Regions from separate parts of the Homo sapiens genome. Here region 2 is linked to region 1. Evidence: fine-mapped expression QTL. A gene starts in region 1. The other region holds a variant in brackets. All regions are shown on one strand. Distances are between the middles of the regions. Region 1 holds the start of SIK3 (SIK family kinase 3). Region 2 overlaps SIK3 (SIK family kinase 3).

Evidence for each region. PIP is the estimated chance that this variant, and not a neighbour inherited with it, causes the effect. A credible set is the group of variants that fine-mapping cannot tell apart.
Region 2: its variant is the best candidate, but not a certain one, in a credible set for the expression of SIK3 in aorta (GTEx, PIP 0.65).

What each region holds. Positions count from the first base shown.
Region 1 is chr11:117,095,743-117,101,122 of GRCh38, reverse strand. SIK3 (SIK family kinase 3) reads left to right here and starts at 2,695. Exons shown (of 25, transcript NM_001366686.3): 1 at 2,695-2,980. The coding sequence starts at 2,708. RefSeq lists silencers at 2,507-2,686, 2,767-2,816 and an enhancer at 4,138-4,187.
Region 2 is chr11:117,050,744-117,056,123 of GRCh38, reverse strand. All of the region lies in intron 1 of SIK3 (SIK family kinase 3), which reads left to right. Among named protein-coding and RNA genes, the nearest start is that of SIK3, 45 kb to the left of the region's middle. The variant G/C (reference allele first, on the strand shown) is at 2,474.

The sequences.
Region 1 (5,380 bases):
ATTCCCCTAATCCCTATGTGCCTCATTTTCCTTATCTGCAAAATAGAGATATAATACAAACCATCTAATTAGGTTGTTGTGAAGATTAAGTGAGTTCCCTTAGGTACACTGTTTAGCATAACGCGTGGCAGATTGCTATTTCCTCTGAGTTTCTCTCAGAACCTAACTCAGTTCTTGGTACTCAATAAATCCTTATTAAACGTAAACATCTAAACTATTTTCCTTTTTGCCTGATGATCTCCTTTGATTACTCCCTTCTCTAATTTTCTATATTCTTTGTGCCAAAGAGGACTATTCTTCAAGGAGATCTCCAGCAAGTCTCTACCAAAGTCTCAATCAGAAACACCATCTAGTGACCTCAATCTATACAGGAAAGGAGCGTAAGTGACATAACACACAGCACACAGCATATGTTCTGGTCATTATTGAGGGACAAGAGTCATCTGCTTCTTCTCTGTGGAAATTAGAACAATGCTGCATTTTCTAGGTCCTTCCCAGAGTTGTTTTTGTTTTTGACACTCTTGAGAGAGTAGCAAAAGTTCTGATATTTGATGTTCGAATTACCTCCATTAGTGGAGGACACTCTGTGATCATACAGTCATCAGTAAGAATGGTTTCAGTGCTGCTCCTGCAGCTTCCACAGTGAAAGATTTTTTTATTTGCTTTACTAGCCAGCTAAGGTTTCTGTTGAGACACCCAGGGAGATGGTAAAACTGCAGCTGTAGCTGGGCACGGTGGCTCACGCCTGTAATCCCAGCACTTTGGGAGGCTGAGGCGGGGGGATCACGAGGTCAGGAGTTCGAGACCAGTCTGGCCAACATATCGAAACCCCGTCTCTACTAAAAATACAAAATTAGCCGGGCATGGTGGTGTGCGCCTGTAGTCTCAGCTACTCGGGAGGCTGAGGCAGGAGAATGGCTTGAACCTGGGAGGTGGAGGTTGTGGTGAGCTGAGATTGCACCACTGCACTCCAGCCTGGGTGACAGAGTGAGACTCTGTCTAAAAAAAAAAACAAAAACCCAAAAACTGCAGCTGTGAAGCCCAGCACCAAAGTTATAGTCCCTGCTAGAGGCAGCTGAGAGCCATGAAGTGATAGGAGAGGCAGGTCACACCCCATCATTTATCTGGGATGGAATGAGCTCAGCTGATGAAAGGGCTTAACCAATGCAAGAAGCCAAGGCCCACTTCATTCTTATCTTTAGTTGCTAATAAGGGAGCCAATTAGTGTTAATTGTGTTGGCAGTTTGGAACAGCTACCAGGGAATAGATCCAAGACCATTGTGGGATGACCCCTCTGTCCCATCTTAAGTCCCAGCCATTACTCATGGTTGGATAGGGAATTGGAGCACCAGGAGGTGTTCTTTGGTCAGCGAGTAAACACGAGTTATCCTTCCACACATTTACAGTGCCCTGGGTGTCAGTTTTTAATACTGTGCATGCAGTGACCTCACAATACAGTTCTACCATTGAGAGAGACATAGATATGGATGGATCAGGACTAGTCCAAAGGAATACATTTTAACATTGGAATATTCACAATCTTCCCTCCTTTCCACCCAGCCTGCCAAAGACTATTTTGTTGACAGTCTGATTTCCTACCTGCAACCCTCACCTAAAGCAGCTAAGTTAATCTATTTAATAAAGGGAAGGGGAGAGAGGAGGAGGAAGCCTGGGAGCTATGAAGGATGCAGGTAATAGGCAAGGGAAGAAAAAGAGATATGAAATTGCTGGAGTTATTAACTTGATGACCCTCAATGTCCTCGGAGAGTCACTAGGAAGGATGGAATTTTTATTATTTACTTATTTATTTTGCTTAACCGACTGTTGTTTAAACACGACGTGGTTCATTGGACAATGCGCACCACTGCTTCATCAGGGTTATACAAGCAACAGAAATAGTATGTAGGCACTCTGACAGACATCCCTGTAGAATTGTTCAGAGATGGGGGTGGTAGGAAGGAAAATGACGTACCTTCTTTGGCTGTCACCCACCCAATGACTGGAATGCCTGTTTGGACTGGCTTGTCCGCCCTTGAACACGCAAATCCTAGTTTCCCCATTCTCCTATATTCGGTGACAATTAGGTTGACTGTGCAGGGTGAGCTGGATTTTGTAAGAGGAAGGAATTTTACCGAAGAATTCCCCTGCGTTGTTACCAACTTGGTTACAGTTGCTTCAAGAGTGTAGCTATTCCTGCATTTGTGGCCTCAAGGGCTAAAGTGGGACAACGCTGGTATTTTTGGTGATGAGGAAACACTTTTTTTTTGTTAAGGGAGGTTGGGTGATCGTTGAACTGGGACAGAGGTCACAGCAGAGGTCACATTGGCGATTCGAGCGGCGGTGGGGGGTTGGCTTTGGGTCGGGCATCCTGCGCCCCCCACTCGGGAAAGGTGGCGGAGACTTCGAGGTTGGGGGCCCATCGAAGGTTCCCACCGCCAGCTCCCGGAGGGGGGCACCCGGGAGCCAGCGCCTCAGGAACCGGGGCCCACGCGGGAAGGTCGAGCCCGCCGGTGAGGTCACGGTTGCCATGGCTCCGGGCAGTGACGCGCGTCGGCACGTGACCCGCGGTTGCCATGGAGCCGGGCGCCGGTCGGCGAAAGCGCCCCGCCTCCCCGAGTGACGTCCGCGGCCCCCCCTTTCCCGCCCCCCCTTGCCCCCTCCCCCGAGCCGGCTCCCCGCGGCCCCGGAGGTTTCACTGCACAACAAGATGGCGGCGGCGGCGGCGAGCGGAGCTGGCGGGGCTGCCGGGGCCGGGACTGGGGGAGCCGGGCCCGCGGGCCGCCTGCTGCCTCCGCCCGCGCCGGGGTCCCCAGCCGCCCCCGCTGCCGTGTCCCCTGCGGCCGGCCAGCCGCGTCCCCCAGCCCCGGCCTCCCGCGGACCCATGCCCGCCCGTATCGGCTACTACGAGATCGACCGCACCATCGGCAAGGGCAACTTCGCGGTGGTCAAGCGGGCCACGCACCTCGTCACCAAGGCCAAGGTACCGGCGCAGGGGCCAGGCGGCAGTCGGAGCGTGGCGGGGCCGGGAGAGGTCCGCGCCCCCCAGCCGGGGGGTCGGGGCGGCGAGCGCGGCGCGTGGTGGGAGCGTTGGGGGCCGGGAGGCGGGAGGGAGCCAGCCGCGGCGGGGCGGGCGCGGAGCTAGGGACACCTGGGACTCGAGACGGCGGAACTCCAAGCAGGGGGCCGAGGGCACAGAGCACCGGCGCCCAGGAGCCGGGCGCGGGGAGGGGTCCTCGGGGCTGAGGGCAGGCGGGTAAAGGGGATGATTGGAAAGAAGGGGTCGGAACTCCCCGAGGGCCGGGAGACTGTAAGCCCAGAAGACTCTGGAACCAGCAGCTAGGGAATCATAAGGGAATGAGGGCAGGGGCATATGAAATGTGGACCCGGAGGATGGGGAAAAACAAGGGTGAAGTGGCAGACCCGGGCTTGTAAGGGGACCCAGGACGGCTGGGGCACGGACTGGGAATGTGCACGTCTGCAGGGCGCTGGGAGGTCCCAGGATCCTGGTGCCTTAAGACAGAGACAGGAATCCGCATTTGATCATCTAAGACTGATAGATGGTGCGAAGGGGATCCCGAGGAGACACGATTAGTGGAGGAGGCAATGAGGAAAATGGGGAAATAAGGGGGAAATTGCTTTGCTTGTCCACAGGAAGGGGCCCAGGGAATGGGGGAGTGAGGTGGGGGTGGGGGCTGTCCCAGGTTTATGATGGCACTAGGTAGTCAGGGGTTAAACAATTTGGGAGAGCTGATTGCTGGTTATTTTTAGTTGTTGGAGGGTCGGGAATTGTGGGCTTTGTAGAACCCAGGGTGGGCTTTTACTGGTTGGGGGGAAGCTTGTGATTGAAGAACCCAGACACCGGGAGATTACACTCATCGAGCCCTTAGTTCTCAAAGGGATTTGAGGCGCTATAGGAGTGAAATTGGCCAAGGTCAATTAGGAAGCTATATATGTATGCATGTAAAATTCTTTGAGGAAATATGGTAGCACTTTCATGTAGCCTTCGTTGGGAGGACTGGAATCTAAGACATCAGGAGGAATCTTTTGGTTTTGGTGGAACCCGCAAAGCCCATTTTTACTCTAAAATTTTCTTTGCTCAATATCTTACTTGAATGAATACTTTTAATGTAGTCATTCATTATGTTTAGAACTGCAGCTTGTGTTTTCCCTCAGCCTGAGGAATGAAGAACCCTTACAGCTGCTGCCGCCTCCTACCAAAGCCACATCAATTCCCCTCACCTCCTCAGCCTAGCCTCTGGTTGTCATGACCTACCTTGTTTTTGCTTTTTTGGCAGTGGCTTGTTTTCTGAAGCCAGTGACTTATCTAGGCCTTCTCTCCTGATCACTTGCAACCTGAAGTTCCTTCCCCACCATCTTTCTGCCTGAGGCTACAAGGGGCCCTTCTTACCAGGGTGTCAGGGTGGGTGGCTGTGGCGAATTGATTGGTCAGTTTCACTTCCTCTGGAGGGCCCTCTTCAGCCTTTTTGTCCGTTTTTATCACAGGGCCTCCAGTCTGCAGGTCAGAGCTGAATGAGATACCAAAGTCCAGGGCTCCCTCAGACCCTGAGGGGAAGTCAGGGGAAGTCGATTGAGCCAAGACTTTGGTGTGCTCCTCACTTGCCACCCCAGCCCCTCACCGTGTTTCCAGTCTAGTTGACTATTAGCCAAGGCAAACTTACATTTACAAACAATATGCCTTGTTCCTTGTTTTGCTATTTCTTTCCTTTTTTTCTGCCTATTTTCTGTGTAATCACTTTGTGCTCCTGTGGTTATTTTGCTCTGACCTCTGGGGGATAGTCTCCATGAACTTAATTGGTTGCCTGGTTTATGGTTTCATGATTTAAAGAATTTTGAATCTTCCAGCCCTTGGATACACCAAAATATTGATAAAATCTGTTACAGACAGGGTTGAATGTTTTCGTAAATGTAATTGCAAACAGTTGATTCTTGGCTTTAATATAAAAGAGACATTTCTATCTTCAGTAGTCAGCAAAGCCAGTGCCTAATTATGGCTGGTCTGCCCGCTTTCTAATTTTCATGTGTGTGTATATGTGCGTGCGTGTGTTTTTCATAGTTTTTCTCTGAGACCTTGGTATCCTTTAGGACTGCAGCATTTTAAACACTGGCTTGTTTACAAACGGGTGTCACTGTTTATGTTGGTTTTTATCTTTGATCATTTGTGGTATGCAGTTGTGCAATTCCTATGTATGGAAATATTCAAAGTCTTGAATGAGACTGAAATGGCTTGGACAATGAGTTGCATGTGTGAAGGAGCCACACCAGCATTCATTTGTGTTTCTGTAGCAGTGTGCAATTTCCTAGTTACAGTTACAAGTGCTATATCTTTTGCTGCTTAAATTACTCTGACTACATGAGTGAA
Region 2 (5,380 bases), 45 kb after region 1:
CCTTTTCCATTTAATATATCTACTTCCCTGTTGGTTCTCTTCTGTCTCCTCATCCTGTAGCACATCCTCCAAACTGATAGAGCTTTGGTTGCTGTCAGTTCTTTTGTGCTGCTATAGGAGAATACCTGACACTGGGTAATTTATAAATAACAGAATTTTATTTTCTCATAGTTCTGGAGGCTGGGAGGGCACTGGCAGGTTCATTGATGGGGATTTGGTCTCTGCTTCTTAGACGATGCCTTGAATGCTGTGTCCTCACATGGCAGAAGGCAGAAGGGCAAAAAGGGAGTAACTCCCTCCATCAAGCCCATTTTTAAGGGCACCTAATTGCATTCATGAACGGAGGAACCCTCATGACTTAATGATGTCTTAAAGGCCCGACTTCTTAATACCATCACGTTGGCAACATCTGACTTTTAGAGGCGGAGACATTCAAACTGTGGCCCTAGCCAAGTCCTTTGTGTGCTTTTACTTATCTTTACAACCATCCTATGAGATAGTGCCTGTTTCTCTGCCTACTTGTTAAGCGATTATATTCTTCTGGATTTTGTCCTTGGCTCCTCTATCCAACCCACCTGTAGCCCCACCTTCTCTTCTGTTCCCTCATCCAAACCAGAGAGACCAGGATTTGAATCTGGCTCCATTATTTTCTCCCTAAGAGACACGGAATGATTTACTTTGTCTCTATGTTTCTGTTTCTTTCTCTGTAAGTAAGAGTGGGGAGACTAGAGCTACCTATCTCAGGATTGTGTGGAGTAAATGAATAATGTGTGTAAAACATTTAAAATAGTGTCTCATGTACACTAAGTGCTTAATAAATGCTAATAATAGGAATAGTAACAACAGTATAGTTACATTGTTATTATAAATCTGTATCTGTGGTACTCTTAGCTTAAGTTCGTACAAAAATATTGAGCTGCCTGTTAGAAATCTACATTTGGATGCCTCCCCAGATATCTTAAACTCAGTTTATCTAAAGTCAGAGTCTTTCTGTGGCTTCAGTGCTTAGTGACTGTGTCCGTGAATAAACTACTTATTTTCTTTAAGCCTCCATTTCTCCATTTATGAAAGGGTGATAATGAACTTATTTTATCAATATTAAATGAGATAATTCTTGTAAAAGTATTTAGCATAGTGCTGGTATATACTAATATCTTAATAAATATTAGTTGCTATTATTATTATTCCTTTTAAATGCTGATCCCCTTTTTGTCCTGTTCTGCCCAGAAAAAGAGCCTCAGGATAGCTTTGCCTGTCTGCCTGTCTTCCTTATCCTTCATATGCAACCAGTCAGCAAGTACTGTTATTTTGTATTTTCATTTTAAACATCTTAATTTTTATTTATTTTAAAATTATTTATAGAGATGGGGTCTCACTATGTTGTCTAAGCTGGTCTTGAATTCTTGGGCTCCAGTGATCCTCCCACCTCTGCCAAAGTGCTGGGATTACAGGTGTGAACCACCACACCTGGCCTATCAAGTACTGTTGATTGTGCTTCCGAAACATGTGCTTGCATCCAACCACTCCTTATCATTTCTTGACACAATTATTGTGGTAATCTCCTAATTGCTCTCCTGGCCTCTTGGCCATCTTGTACCTTTCATCCTGAGTTATCTTTATAGTAGGTAGATCTGCTCATATCACTCAGCAGAAAGGCCTCTGATGGGTCTCTCTTACCTGAAATATAAAGCCTCCAAGGCCCACTACACCACAGTCATCTTTAGAGCCTCCCCTCTTGTTCTGGGACCCATGGGTCCTACAGTATATGCAGACTACTGACTGTTCTGTGACTGCACCCTGTACTCTAAATCTCATACCTTTGTCCCTGACCTGCTGTTGCTGTACCTGCCTTCTTTTTGCTTAGAGGGTTGTCCCCTCAAGCACTCCCTGCTAATAAGCACTCAGCCTTCCACCCCAAACATCTAGTCTGTCTGGTGAATTCCTGGTGATTCTTCAGTGGTCTGTCTCAAATATATCTTCTACGCTCTTTTCTCTTTAGTCTTAACTGCCATCCAAGGCAACATTAGTTAGTCCCTCATTATAAGAGGCAATATAAGCTGGTGAGAGGTATATACCCACAGTCCTAGCTACTTGGGAGTCTGAAGCAGGAGGATTGCTTGAGGCCAGCCTGGGCAGCATAGCAAGACCTTGTCTCTTTGAAAAAAATAGAAAGAAAATGCTGGGTGTGGTGGCTCACATCTGTAATCCCAGCACTTTGGAAGGCCAAGTAGGGAGGATTGCTTGAGCTCAGGAGTTCGAGACCAGCCTGGGCAATACAGCAAGACCCCATCTCTACAAAAACTAAAAAAATTAGCTGGGCATGGTGGCACATGCCTGTGGTTTCAGCTACTCTGGATGCTGAGGGAGAAGGATCACTTGAGCCCAGGAGTTTGAGGCTGCAGTGAGCCATGATTGTGCTCCAGCCTGGGTGACAGAGTAAGACCTTGTCTCAGTGGAGGGGGTAGGGTGGGAG[G/C]GGGGAAAGAGGCAATATAGTGGTAAGTTAAAATCCCTGAGTTTGGAGCCAGACTGCCTTTGTTATTAAGGTAGTTGTATATAACTGGGATGAAACTGTTTAACTTTTTTGTGTCTCAGTTTTCTCATTTATAACAAATGAGTAATATTAGTCTTGCTGTGAGGGTTAAGTGAATTAATGTAGGGAAAATGCATTGAAAGGGCTTGCATATTACTAAGTACTTCATAAATATAGCTATTATTATTATTCTCAAAGCATTTCTTACATACTTACCTATAATAGCATTTGCCACTTTACTTTTTTTTTTTTTTTCCAAGACAGAGTCTTGCTCTGTTGCCCAGGCTGGAGTGTAGTGGCATGATCTAGGCTCACTGTGACCTCCGCCTCCTGGGTTCAAGCAATTCTCCTGCTTCAGCCTCCTGAGTAGCTGGGATTATAGGTGTATGCCACTATGCCCAGCTAATTTTTGTATTTTTAGTAGAGACAGGGTTTTACCGTGTTGGCCAGGCTGGTCTTGAACTCCTGACCTTGTGATCCACCCACCTCGGCCTCCCAAAGTGCTGGGGTTACAGGCATGAGCCACCGCGCCCGGCCTGCAGTTACTTTTTTGTGTATATTTCCCAATAGACTGTGGCTTTTTTGAAGGTGGGCTATTTTAATCATCTTTGTGTCATCAGTATGTAGTACACAGTGGGACCCAGTAAACAATCAGATGTGCTGTTTGTGTAGCCCAGAATAAAGTGCCAGGTCCTCCTGCATTGCAGCAGTCAGCAGCATGCATCTGGAAAGTATTGCTTTCTGAAACTACGGCATTAGAGCCACAAAGCTGTTTGGGATTGGACCTTAGCAAGCTCTTCAACCAGAAATTTGCTATTACAATGAAGCTTCCTATCTGCAATAGGTAGATTGTAACTGACAGCATGTAGTCATTGGAAGGAGGTTAATCCCAGAGCATAAGAGGACTTCTGATTTATTTTTGCTTAAAGGGATACAATCCAAGGCCACAAAGGCTGCTATAAGACTTTTGTTTTGTTGGGGATAATAAAGAGAGCTGTTTCTGCCTTTTCCACTTTCTTCTTATAAACCTGCTGAAGATTGAAATGTTAAAATGTGATTCAGAGAAGAGATTTCTTTATTGTAAACATGATAGAGAGCTCAGAATGAATGCCGGAGATAGACTCTTTATAGAGGATTTCAGGGTATTAAACTCTTAAGCCCCTTATGGTCAGGTTTTACTGCCAACCCTTAACACCCCACCATGCCTGGGCTACTGCAATAGTAACTGGTCTTTCTACCTTTAGGTTCGCTGCAGTCTCTCCTGCCTACTGCTATGATATTAATATTTATAAAGCCTTACTTTGACTTTTCTCATGCATTATAAAAAATCCTCGCAAAATACCCCATCATATACAAGGAAAGTTCCAAGTTTTAGCTTGTCATTCTGGACTTGTATTAGGATTCTCCAGAGAGAGAGAGAGAGATTTCTTTCCTTTCTTTTTTTCTCTTTTTTTTTCCCAGGGTTTCACTCTTGTTGCCCAGTCGAGTCCAGTGGCACTATCTTGCAAACTGCAACTTCCGCCTTCCGGTTTCAAGCAATTCTCCTGCCTCAGCCTCCTGAGTAGCTGGGATTACAGGCGCCTGCCACCACGACCGGCTAATTTTTGCATTTTTATTAGAGACGGGATTTCACCATGTTGGCCAGGCTGATCTCAAACTCCTGACCTCGTGATCCACCTGCCTCAGCCTTCCAAAGTGCTGGGATTACAGGCATGAGCCACCACGCCCGGCCTGGATAGATGGATTTCTGTAATAAACCTCTATAGGCCAGGCGTTGTAGCTCATGCCTGTAATCCCAGCGTTTTGGGAGGCTGAGGCGGGCAGATCACCTGAGGTCAGGAGTTTGAGACCAGGTCGGCCAACATGTTGAAACCCCATCTCTATTAAAAATACAAAAATTAGCCGGGCATGGTGGTGTGCACTTGTAAATCCCAGCTATTTGGAAGGCTGAGGCAGACAATCACTTGAACCCAGGAGGTGGAGGTTGCAGTGAGCTGAGATTGCGCCATTGCACTCCAGCCTGGGTGACTGAGGGAGACTCGGTCTCAAAAAACAAAAAACAAGGAAAAAAACCCCAAAACCTTCATAATAAGTTTCCATATCTATATCTATAGATATAGAAGAGGTTTATTTTATATATATAATAGATACATAGATAGGTATAAGAGGAGGTTTATTATGGAAGTTGGCTCATGTGATTCATGTGATCATGGAGGCCGAGAAATCCTATGATAGGCCATGTGCAACCTGGAGAACCAGGAAAGCTGGTGGTGTAATTAAGTTGGAGTCTGAGGTCCTGAGAACCAGGGGAATCAAGGCTGAAGGCCTGGGAATTGGGAAGGGGTGGTGTGCTGGTGTAAGTCCTGGAGTCCAAAGACCCAAGAACCAGGAGCTTTGATGTCCAAGAGTGGGAGAAGATGGATATCCCAGCTCAAGAAGAAAGAGTGAATTTGCTCTTCCTCTGCCGTTTGCTCTCTCTGGGTGGAAAAGGGTAAACAGATTATGACGCCCACCCTCATTGGTGAGTGTGGGTCTTCTTTATTTAGTTTACTGATTCAAATGCTAATCTCTTGCAGAAATACCCTCAGAGACCCACCTAGAAATGTTTTATCAGCTGTCTGGGCCATTCCTTAGCTTAGTCAACTTGGCACATAAAATTAACCATCACAGGACTCTTCTGCAGTCTGACTCTGGTTACCTTTTCTACCTTATCTTCCACTATATCCTAGAATGAGCTGTGTAGCTTACCTGGCCTAGTTGTGAGTCCTATAATGTGAATTGCATTTTATGTTTGTATCTACCCAGAACATTTTACCTTTTGAAATTTTGCCTCTCCTTTAAGATCCATTA